Homo sapiens: one gene and its partners. The protein of the gene in region 2 purifies or fractionates together with the protein of the main gene of each other region. This does not show direct contact. Each region holds a gene or a part of one and is shown on either strand. Other genes may lie near its edges. The genes, in order: VIPAS39, PLOD3 and COL18A1.

The links.
Region 1: the proteins of PLOD3 (region 2) and VIPAS39 purify together in Homo sapiens (co-immunoprecipitation; 2 studies listed by BioGRID and IntAct, with this or other methods). This does not show direct contact.
Region 3: the proteins of PLOD3 (region 2) and COL18A1 purify together in Homo sapiens (co-immunoprecipitation; 2 studies listed by BioGRID and IntAct, with this or other methods). This does not show direct contact.

What each region holds. Positions count from the first base shown.
Region 1 is NC_000014.9:77,426,591-77,430,238, reverse strand, and holds the end of VIPAS39 (spermatogenesis-defective protein 39 homolog), read left to right. Parts: intron 1-69; coding exon of another isoform or gene 70-120; exon of another isoform or gene 121-149; intron 150-471; coding exon 472-558; intron 559-1,143; coding exon 1,144-1,233; intron 1,234-1,764; coding exon 1,765-1,869; intron 1,870-2,602; coding exon 2,603-2,623; 3' UTR 2,624-3,564; downstream 3,565-3,648.
Region 2 is NC_000007.14:101,207,550-101,211,197, reverse strand, and holds part of PLOD3 (multifunctional procollagen lysine hydroxylase and glycosyltransferase LH3 precursor), read left to right. Parts: intron 1-524; coding exon 525-666; intron 667-753; coding exon 754-867; intron 868-1,036; coding exon 1,037-1,105; intron 1,106-2,240; coding exon 2,241-2,345; intron 2,346-3,473; coding exon 3,474-3,620; intron 3,621-3,648. UniProt on the Homo sapiens protein: Multifunctional enzyme that catalyzes a series of essential post-translational modifications on Lys residues in procollagen. Plays a redundant role in catalyzing the formation of hydroxylysine residues in -Xaa-Lys-Gly- sequences in collagens.
Region 3 is NC_000021.9:45,506,146-45,509,793, forward strand, and holds part of COL18A1 (collagen alpha-1(XVIII) chain isoform 4 preproprotein), read left to right. Parts: intron 1-1,415; coding exon 1,416-1,448; intron 1,449-3,210; coding exon 3,211-3,456; intron 3,457-3,648. UniProt on the Homo sapiens protein: Probably plays a major role in determining the retinal structure as well as in the closure of the neural tube.

The DNA of each region.
Region 1 (3,648 bases), on a different chromosome or scaffold from region 2:
TTAAAGTATAGAAAGAGTGAAGTTCCTTTTTCATTTTCTACCTACTCCTATCTCACCCCCTTTCTCAAGGCAAACACTGTTAAAAGTTTAATGGGTAGCTTTCCAGACCTTCCCTCATGAATTTGCAAATAAACATCTGTACTTACAAAGATATGGAAGATGGAATTATTTTCTACATTGATAAGTTCATACTACAAATATTAAGTAAGTTACTTATCCCATTTAGTAGTATTTCAAGACTTTTCCCTGCATTCGTTTCTATAGATCTAAGAAGTTATTTCAAACCTGATTCATTTCCACTCTCTCAAATCCCTTGATTTTTCTGAAAAATTCATTTCTCATTATTTCTGTATCCCTCAGCACCCCCACTCACCCACCACATTATTCTGGTCTGATCGTAAAACATAGACTAACCTAGAATGTGTTGAGTGTGCCTGGCCTACCTGCCGCTACCCCATCTTCCTCTTTCAGAACTGGCTGGGCTATACCAAGAAGAGAGCACCCATTGGCTTCCATCGGGTTGTCGAAATTTTGCACAAGAACAATGCCCCTGTGCAGGTAATGGGTCCTGAAGAGAGTTGGGTACAGGATATTCTTGGAGACCTAACTTTAAGCCTCTTACTGGTCAGTGATGGGAGACCCGATCTGCTCTTGTTTTCCCTTAAAGGCAGCACAATGGCTGCAATAGGCCTCAAGACAGAAAAGGCCAGGGAGTGAAATTCTCTCCCTTTCTCCCCTTTAGAAACAATTCCAAACTGTCCTCTCTGAGTAGCATCTACTGTGTTAGCCCAAGTGGAATACTGATGTACTGTTCAAATGATAGAAAAGGAGAACTCGTGGAGAAAAGACATCAGGGAGAAATGAGCAGAGCACTGGATCACAGCTAGAGCACTCATTGCTGGCATGTGTATCTGGCTCGAGGATCAGGAGAAGTGTGCTCTTTCCTGCTTACTGAGGCAGCATGGAAGTACTGTGTAGCGTTACCTCATTCCCATTGCAGAACTAGTCCTGTGGTTGATGATGGAAACTGGAAACATTAGCTATTGAACTCTTTTGCCTTCTTCAGGACTTTCTTTTCTACCTTGTAGAGCTCTGTGCCTTATGGGTGTTTGAATCATTAATCGGAAGTACCTCTTCCCACAGATATTACAGGAGTATGTCAATCTGGTGGAAGATGTGGACACGAAGTTGAACTTAGCCACTAAGTTCAAGTGCCATGATGTCGTCATTGATGTGAGTCCCCAAGAAATGGGAGTCCTCCGTTAGATCCTCAGTGGCGAAGCAGGGTGGGGATTATAATATTCTCTGTCCAAGATCCTGAGGTGCTCCCACCAGGTTTGACTGAATGGACAGAATAATCTGGCAAGAGTTTGTTTGGAGACCAGCACTCCTGTATTATTTTCCCAGCCCTCTGACTGCTTTCTCTGTGTTTTTATAAACTTGTCGTACTTGGAGAATTCATAGAACTAAATCAAGCTATACAAGCTGTGTAGTCTTCTCTCCAACATGGAGTTCTGTGGGCACTGGACCCCACTGTTATCCCACTATAGCCTCTTAGCCTCTCCTTGAGCGTTGGGTCAAAGTGATAATGACAAAAAGAAATAAGCCCTCATGTGTACACAGTAGCACACACCAGTAGTTCCAGCTACTCAGGAGCCTAAGGAGAGAGGATTGCTTGAGCCCAGGAGTTTGAGACCATCCTGGGCAAAAAGAACCCTGTACAGAGGCTGATTGGAGGTTTGTATTGTTTGTTTTGATGCACAGACCTACCGGGACCTGAAGGATCGTCAACAGTTGCTAGCATACAGGAGTAAGGTAGATAAAGGATCAGCAGAGGAGGAGAAGATTGATGCTCTTCTCAGCAGCTCGGTGAGCAGCTACAGTTCACCCCTCCAGCAGGCTCAGGAGACAGACAGTTCACAAAATAGTACCAAATGTATGTTCCCAAGGTCTGGAAGGATTGCAGTTGGCTAAGCCACATGGATGTAAGGCTCTCCTCTGGCCACAATGTCAAAAGCACTGCTTTGAATAGCAGAAATTACTCCTGAGATGCGGTATGATAGGGGGGTAATCTGGGGACCTCAAGCTAAGACTTAACTGTAATGCTGTGATAATAGTTAAACCTAGCATGTAGGAGAAACTAAATATTGAAAGTATGAAAACATGTTACAGATTCAGAATATCCAAACTGTATGGTCTCGTGGGGATGGATGGGACCTACCAGTTGAAAATAAGAAGTGGGTGAAATAGATGTTAGCTACCTGGGGAGCACAGCTGGTTCGTCTCTCACAGCAGGAAATTACTGAGCTCTTTGTTAATATGAAAGTTAGTTCCCTGTTAGGTATTTTGGAACCTACCTTAGGGTCAAATGACCAAAATTAGGCTTGTAAAATACAAAATAGGTGTTTAATGCATCTTTGAATAAATGAACTCCCCCATATATTTTAAAAAATTTCTCAACATCCCCCACCTCCTGATCTGATTCTACTTTTTCTTTTCCTTACATTATCTAGCTGAGCCTTGTTTTGTTGCATTTTCTCTGCCTTGCTGTAGGGATAAGTGAAAACTGATCACACACTTTCATTGTTTCCTCTTTCCACAGCAAATTCGATGGAAGAATTAAGTGGCATTGACTACCTTGAAGCCTGCCTCATTTCCTCCTCTCCTGCCTGTGAAAGCAGAGAGAGCTCTTCTTTGGGAGAGCTGCGGCATCACATCGCTTGGGCCCATTACCCATGGGCAGTGCCAGCTACTCTTGACACAGATAACTTCAGACTGATCTTCTGTCCAAGGAACATCATCTGAGGATCGAGATCTAAAGCTTTGAGTCATGAGAATGATTCTCTCCACCTGGTGCTCATATGAAGGTGGGAGTGATTTCTAGATTGGGCCCCTACTGGGTAAGATCTCACTTGGTCTGAGAAAAGTGACTGCTCCAGAAAGGAAGAGGTATGGGAGTCATAGGGTGGCTACTGCATTCCACTCAGCTAATTATGATCCAGGACTTGGCGCTGGACATTGGCAGTTCTGCTCTGAATGAAGTCAGAACAGAACCAAAATGGCCTCAGGAAGGAATGCCAGTGTTTCCCAAGACCTCCTGGAGATGCACTCACACCAGACTGCACAGACCCCTCCACATTATGCCACACATGGCCTAGACGTTGTGTTTCCTCAGCCATTTTCCCTCTGCTGCCCCAGTTTACTCTGTCCAAAACCCTAAGGTTCTTCTCTCACTTGAACACAGACGACCTTGCTTGGGTGATGAGACATCCCCTTTATCTCTTCCTCTACTGCTGGCCAAGACCCGTCACTTTATAAGAAGCTCAGATGCAGCAGTGCTGGAGAGCTCTCTCTTTATGCAAAAATCTCATTTCACCAGGAGCTTTCAGAAGTTTCACCTGGGCTAAATTCAGCAGCATTTCTGTTAGGATATTTAGATGGAGGTTTTATTTTCACACTTGGATTCTTGCTCTGTACCAATATTTGCCTCCTTTTCTGTGACTGAACTGGGTTTTTCTGACATGCCTAGACTCCTAATAAAGGTATTTCTTCCTTGGTGCCTTCTCTCCCGCTCCTGGTGGTTTTGTGTAGAATGATGAAATAATTGCTCAGGATCTTAGGATCATTACAAGTCTTCCTCAGTGACTG
Region 2 (3,648 bases):
AGAAAATAAAAAACAAGGGCCGGCCGCGGTGGCTGACGCCTGTAATCCCAGCACTTTGGAAGGCAGAGGCAGGTGGATTACTCGAGGTCAGGAGTTCGAGACCAGCCTGGCCAACATGGTGAAACCCCATCTCTACCAAAAATACAAAAATCAGCCGGGCATGGTGGCTGGCACCTCTAATCCCAGCTATTTGGGAGGCTAAGGTGGGAGAATTGCTTGAACCTGGGAGGTGGAGGTTGCAGTGAGCCAAGATCACACCACTGCATTCCAGCCTGGGTGACAGAGCAAGACTCCGTCTCAAAAACCAAAAACAAGAAACAAAAAAGAAGTGCCACAGCTTGGGGTAGGAACTGACCGCATTTTGGGAGGTGGGGTGGTTGGGACCAGCAGTGCTTGACAAGGGACATGCAGGGGCCTTATGTTCAGGGACTGGGATACCCTGAGGGAAGAAGGACTTCCCGGGATGAGCTGGGCAGAATTTGGGGGGCTGTCCTCCCAGCTGACCGCGGTGTCGGTGCCTCCAGGGGTGTGTGGAATGTACCATACATCTCCCAGGCCTATGTGATCCGGGGTGATACCCTGCGGATGGAGCTGCCCCAGAGGGATGTGTTCTCGGGCAGTGACACAGACCCGGACATGGCCTTCTGTAAGAGCTTTCGAGACAAGGTGAGCGCGGGTGCACGGTCTGGCCTGGGGGCAGTCCCCCAGACTCCAGGCATCGCCTGCATCACGGACACCCCCACCCCACTACAGGGCATCTTCCTCCATCTGAGCAATCAGCATGAATTTGGCCGGCTCCTGGCCACTTCCAGATACGACACGGAGCACCTGCACCCCGACCTCTGGCAGATCTTCGACAACCCCGTCGTGAGTGGGGACCCCACGCCCAGAGCACACAGGTTCCCCGCCTTGTGCTAAGGAAGACACCAAACGTGATGGCTGCTGCCAGCGCAGGACACTGAGTGGGAGGGGGCGGTCCCCTGGGGGCTGGGAGCGAGGGGGGCACAGATCTGATGTGCCCCCCACCCTCTCACAGGACTGGAAGGAGCAGTACATCCACGAGAACTACAGCCGGGCCCTGGAAGGGGAAGGAATCGTGGAGCAGGTGAGCCCACGCAGCCTCCCCACCCACCCCCTGCCCTCATGGCCATCGCCTCTTGGGGGCCCCCGCCTGGATTCAAAGTTTTCACACTGAGTTCCCCAGAGATCTGAGGGTTTTCTGTTCAGACAAGATGAAGGCAGAGGCCGAACAGAAAGGACTCTTGCCCCCAAAGCCAGCATTGATCAGACAGCCTCTTCTCCTGTATATTGGGTATACTGGTGTTATGCTTGAAATCACATCTTAAAAGAAGAATGGGGCTGGGCTCAGTGGCTCATGCCTGTAATCCCAGCACTTTGGGAGGCCAAGGTGGGTGGATCGGTTGAGGCCAGAAGTCCAAGACCAGCCTGGGCAACATAGCGAGAATCTGTCTCTACAACAACAACAAAAAAATTAAATAAGAAATGAGGCCAGGAGTGGTGCTCATGCTTGTAATCCCAGTACATTGAGAGGCCGAGGCAGGCAGATCACCTGAGGTCAGGAGTTCGAGACCAGCCTGGCCAACATGGCAAATCCTGTCTCTACCAAAAAAAAAAAAAAAAAAAACACAAAAATTAGTCAGGTGTGATGGCGTGCACCTGTAGTCCCAGCTACTCGGGAGGCTGAGGTGGGAGAATCGCTTGAACCTGGGAGGCAGAGGTTGCAGTGAGCCAAGATCACGCCACTGCACTCCACCTTGGGTGACACAGCGAGACCCTGTCTCAAAAAAAAAAGAAAAGAAAAAATTAGCTTGGCATGGTGGCATGTGCCTGTAGTTCCAGCTACTTGGGAGTCTGAGGCGGGAGGATCGCTTGAGCCCAGAAGGTCGAGGCTGTAGTGAGCTATGATTGTGCCACTGCACTCCAGCCTGGTTGACAGAGCAATACCCTATCTCAAAAAAAAAAAAAAGAGGTATGCACTGTTACGGAAGTTTGGAAACCACTGTCCCAGCACGAGGGGCTCCAGGACCCTCTGCCACCTCTCCTGTGCCAGAAACCGGTCCTCAGCCTTGCCACTCCCTCAGCCCCTACCTGGCGGGTCCCCGGCTGCTCTCACAAAGCCTTCCCTGCTCCTCCCTGCCCCTTCCCATTCTGCCTGCTGCCTGTCCCCTTCCCCGTTCTGCGGCGTCAGCTAGCCCTGTTCTCCCTCGCCCCATCCTCAGCCATGCCCGGACGTGTACTGGTTCCCACTGCTGTCAGAACAAATGTGTGATGAGCTGGTGGCAGAGATGGAGCACTACGGCCAGTGGTCAGGCGGCCGGCATGAGGTAAGGGCCTGGGCGAGGAGGGCAGAGGCCTTCCCAGAGGAGGAGGTGCAGGATCTGGTAAACAAACAATGGAATCAGGAAAATGGGAGCAAAGAGGGGTTCCCAGGGGGGAGGCAGACCCTGGGGTCACAACTGCATTCATTCATGTATTCAAGAAATATTTACTGCTGGGCACAGTGGCTCATGCCTGTAATCCTAGCACTTTGGGAGGCTGAGGCGGGAGGATTGCTCGAGCAGGGGGAGTTTGAGGCCAGCCTGGGCAACATAGCGAGACCCTGTCTCTACAAAAAATTTAAAAATTAGCCGAGTTTGGGCCAGGTGCGGTGGCTCACGCCTGTAATCCCAGCACTTTGGGAGGCCGAGGCAGGTGGATCACCTGGGGTCAGGAGTTCGAGACCAGCCTGACCAACATGGAGAAACCCCATCTCTACTAAAAACACAAAATTAGCCGGGCATGGTGGCGGGCGCCTGTAGTCCCAGCTACTCGGGAGCTGAGGTAGAATTGCTTGAACCCGGGAGGCAGAGGTTGCAGTGAGCCAAGATTGAACTCCAGGCTGGGCAACAAGAGTGAAACTCCATCTCAGAAAAACCAACAAATTAGCCGGGCATGGTGGCATGTCCCAGCTATTCAGGAGGCTGAGGCAGAAGGATCACTTGAGCCCCAGAGTTAGAGGCTGCAGTGAGCTATGATCATGCCGCAGTACTCCAGCCTGGGTGACAGAGCAAGACTCTGTCTCTAAAAAAAGAGAAAAGGAAATCATTCCTGGGCCACTGTCCTAGACTGCACTGCAGGAATGCCTCATGCCGGTCGAGCTCTGCCCTGCTGTGAGCAGCAGCCACCACACAGCTTCTAAGGCTGCGATGAGCAGCCTGGGTGCAATAGAAGCCACGGGGAAGCCTTGACCCAGACTTGGGAGGAGTAGGGAGCTTCACAGGACAGGTGACATCTTAGCTGAGACTTGAAGGGCCGGGAGCAGTGAGTCAGGCCGAGAAGTAGCAAAGAAGACTGTTCTGCACAGAGGAACACAGGTGTGAAGGCTGGAGGACGGGAGGAAGGAGGCTGGACTGCCCTGGGGTGGGGAGCGCCATGGCTGGAGGGGCGGGTGGCTCAGTGCCCGCCGCCCCCAGGATTCAAGGCTGGCTGGAGGCTACGAGAATGTGCCCACCGTGGACATCCACATGAAGCAGGTGGGGTACGAGGACCAGTGGCTGCAGCTGCTGCGGACGTATGTGGGCCCCATGACCGAGAGCCTGTTTCCCGGTTACCACACCAAGGTGCGCTGCCCACCTGCCAGCTGCCTCC
Region 3 (3,648 bases), on a different chromosome or scaffold from region 2:
TTTAAAGAAAAGTGAGCTCAAGCTTCTGAAAGTGGATGAACACATGGCGTGTGAGGGGCTCCTGGTGGGTCATGTCACAGTGAACGTTTACAAAGATAAATGTCACCTCACACACCCGATAATAAGACAAGGCGCCTGACGGGACGAGGCGGCAGGGGGGCTCAGGCCCTCCAGGGCCACGTGACGTCCACAGCACGGCCCCGGCTGGGGGGCAGGCTGTCCCGTGGCTCTGCACCCCGCGTTATAAACACCAAGGTGGGATGAAATGCATCCTCTCTGCTTAGCACGGGCCTTGCTCACCAGCCTGGCTCCTCAGACACACCTGGGATTGCCCCTTCCAGGACAGGCCAGCCCCTTTCCTGCTTTCCCAAAATGGTCTGGGTGGCAGGAGTGGCCGCTCTGATCCAGGTGGGTGCGGCCATGCTTGCAGGGCCCCGGGAAGGTTTACCTTCGTGTGGCAAAGGTGAGGACGGGTAGAAGCCCCATGCCGCCGAAACGGCCTGTGACATCCGTGGGAGCCTCCATGGCAGAACACTGCACACTGACACAGCCCTGACTCCTGGAGCCCTCCCACCTTCCAACACACCCACCTTCCTTCTAGAGCCCTCCCACCTTCCCTCTGGAACCCTCCCACCTTCCCTCTGGAGCCCTCCCACCTTCCCTCTAGCACTCCCTCCCTCTCGCCACCGGCCCCCTCCTAGGCCTGGCCAGCCCCTGCAGCACCCCAGACAGTGAATCCCACTCCAGTCCCTTCATCTGGCCAGGGAGAGGCTGCCAGTCTCATAGCAGATGCTGAGCTGGTGCCCACTGTGTGCCAGGTGTGCTTGTAGGCACCCGGATGCAGCCCCATCCTAACTTTCAGGGGCTTTGGTCCTGACAGGAGGAGGCAGGGGATGGCATCCTAGCAAACGCGTGCTGGGAGGGCTGGGTGCTGGGCAGGGAGGGCAACCTGCCGTGGACTGGGAGGGCTGGGTGCTGGGCAGGGAGGGCACCCTCCTGTGGGCTGGGAGGGCCGGGTGTTGGGGAGGGAGAGGCGGGTGCTGGGCAGGGAGGGCACCCTCCTGTGGGCTGGGAGGGCCGGGTGTTGGGGAGGGAGAGGTGGGTGCTGGGCAGGGAGGGCAACCTGCTGTGGACTGGGAGGGCCGGGTGCTGGGCAGGGAGGGCACCCTCCTGTGGGCTGGCAGGGCCGGGTGCTGGGCAGGGAGGGCACCCTGCTGTGGACTGGGAGGGCCGGGTGCTGGGCAGGGAGCGTACCCTGGCACAGGCTTGGAGGGGCAGGTGCTGGGCAGGGAGGGCACCCTCCTGTGGGCTGGGAGGGCCAGGTGCTGGGGCGGGAGAGTCGGGTGCTGGGCAGGGAGGGCACCCTGGCTCAGGCCCAGCCGCAGGTCCTGGGTGACCCTGCTGCTTTCTTCCAGCTGGAGGCCCGGACACCACTCCCACGAGGGACGGTAAGGAGCCTTTTTTCTGTTGAGACTGGTGGGTGGTCAGGACATGAGGGGGTATGTGCTGTCCCCTGTTTGAGGAACAACACGTGGTCCTTTGGAGTCCTGGAGCTGAACATGTGGCTCACCATCAGCCCCTGCTGCAGAAACTGGTGCAGGACACCCCACTACCTCTGTCTCAGCGCTGGCCCCCCAGTACCTCCGTCTCAGCTGCTGGCCTCACGAGGGAGCCCCTCTCATCCCTCAACTTTCCCAGTTGTGTCTGCCGCTCATTGCCCTCCTCAAGGTCAAAATCCTTGGGGCCAAAATCCACATCTTGTGTCTTTGCCTTCCCTCACCCAAAGTGCCAGACACAAGAATGGATATCTCTAAGAGTGGTGGGTGACTGGGTGGGTGAATCAATGGGGAGGTGGATGGATGGATGGGTGGATGGAGAGGTGGGTGAGTGGATACGTAGGTAGATGGGGAGGTGGATGGATGAGTAGATGGTGGACAGGTGGGTGAGTGGATGGATGGTGGTCAGGCGGGTGAGTGGACGGGTGGGTGGGTGGATGGAAAGGTGGGTGAGTGGATAGGTAGGTAGCTGGGGAGATGGATGGATGGTGGACAGGTGGGTGAGTGTATGAATGGGTGGGTGGATAGTGGGTAAGTGGGTGAGTGGATGGTGGACAGGTGGGTGAGTGGATGGGTAGGTAGATGGGGAGGTGGATGGGTGGTTGCTGGACAGGTGGGTGAGTGGATAGATGGGCAGATGGATGGTGGACAAGTGGGTGAGTGGATGGGTGGATGGATGGTGGGCAGATGGATGGTGGATAGGTAGATGAGTGGATGAATGGGTGGATGGATGGTGGGTAAGTGGGTGAGTGGATGGGTGGATGGACAGGTGGGTGAGTGGATGGGTGGGTGGATGGATGGTGGGTAAGTGGGTTAGTGGATGGGTGGGTGGATGGATGGGTAGAAATATTTTCGTTTTCCTAAGTGTTGCGTCCAGCTGCTGTCGGCCCCTCCTTGAGTAGAGGTCATGATTCCTTAATTGGCTCAGGAGTGAGGCCTGATGTGGAGCAGTGTCAGGGGCTCCACAGCGGCCTGTCTCCTCACAGGGTTCAGCCCAGTCTGCTCTCACTCATTTGCTGATTCATTCTTTCATTCAGCCAGTCAATAGTCATGGCCCCTCCTGTGTGCCGGGTGGCCATGGATATTGCCCTGGGTAACACACAGCCTGGCCCTGTGGAGCAGACAGTGGGGACAGCCATGTGGACAGGGTGCAGGTGGATGGCAATGGCAGCTGGGTCAGGAGGGGCTGAGGGCCGTGGGGAAAGGTGCAGAATCAATAGGGGCATCCGGACTGGGGTGCAGGCCTGGGGGCTGGGATTTCTAGGGTGGAGGTCACCTCTGAGGGAGACAGAGCAAGGCCCTGGGAGATTAGAAGGTCGAAGGTCGCCGTGTTGAGGTCAGGGGCCCTGAATTGGAGCCGCGGCAAAGGAGAGGGCAGGTCAGGGCACGTGGTGAGTGATTGCTGCGGCTTCTGAGCACGGCTGGGTCTGTGGGGCCTGAGCAGAGGTGACCCGCGATCCGGCGCCACGGCAGGCAGGACTCCCCACCCTTGCTGCTGCCTACACCCCCAGGGCAGCCCCAGAGTCGGGGGCGCAGCTCCCTGCTTGCCAGTTCAGAGCCCAGCCCCTCTCACCCAGCCCAGAGGAGGACACAGATGGAGGAGGGGCACCCGGAGGGTCCCCCCGCCGACAGGCCCCACGTCTCCCACCTGCAGGACAATGAAGTGGCCGCCTTGCAGCCCCCCGTGGTGCAGCTGCACGACAGCAACCCCTACCCGCGGCGGGAGCACCCCCACCCCACCGCGCGGCCCTGGCGGGCAGATGACATCCTGGCCAGCCCCCCTCGCCTGCCCGAGCCCCAGCCCTACCCCGGAGCCCCGCACCACAGCTCCTACGTGCACCTGCGGCCGGCGCGACCCACAAGCCCACCCGCCCACAGCCACCGCGACTTCCAGCCGGTGGTGAGTGCCCCCCCAAAGTGGGCTTGGCTCCATCTAGCCCCTCGGCTCTCGGCAGCAGAAGAGGGCCCAGCCCCTGCAGAGCTGCTGGGGGTCCCAGGCTTCGGCCATGGGTGGGGGTCTGGCGGCTCAGGGCCACTCAGGGCGGCTTGGCTGGCCCTGGGACTTGCCCTCTGGTGGCCAAGCAGTGGTCAT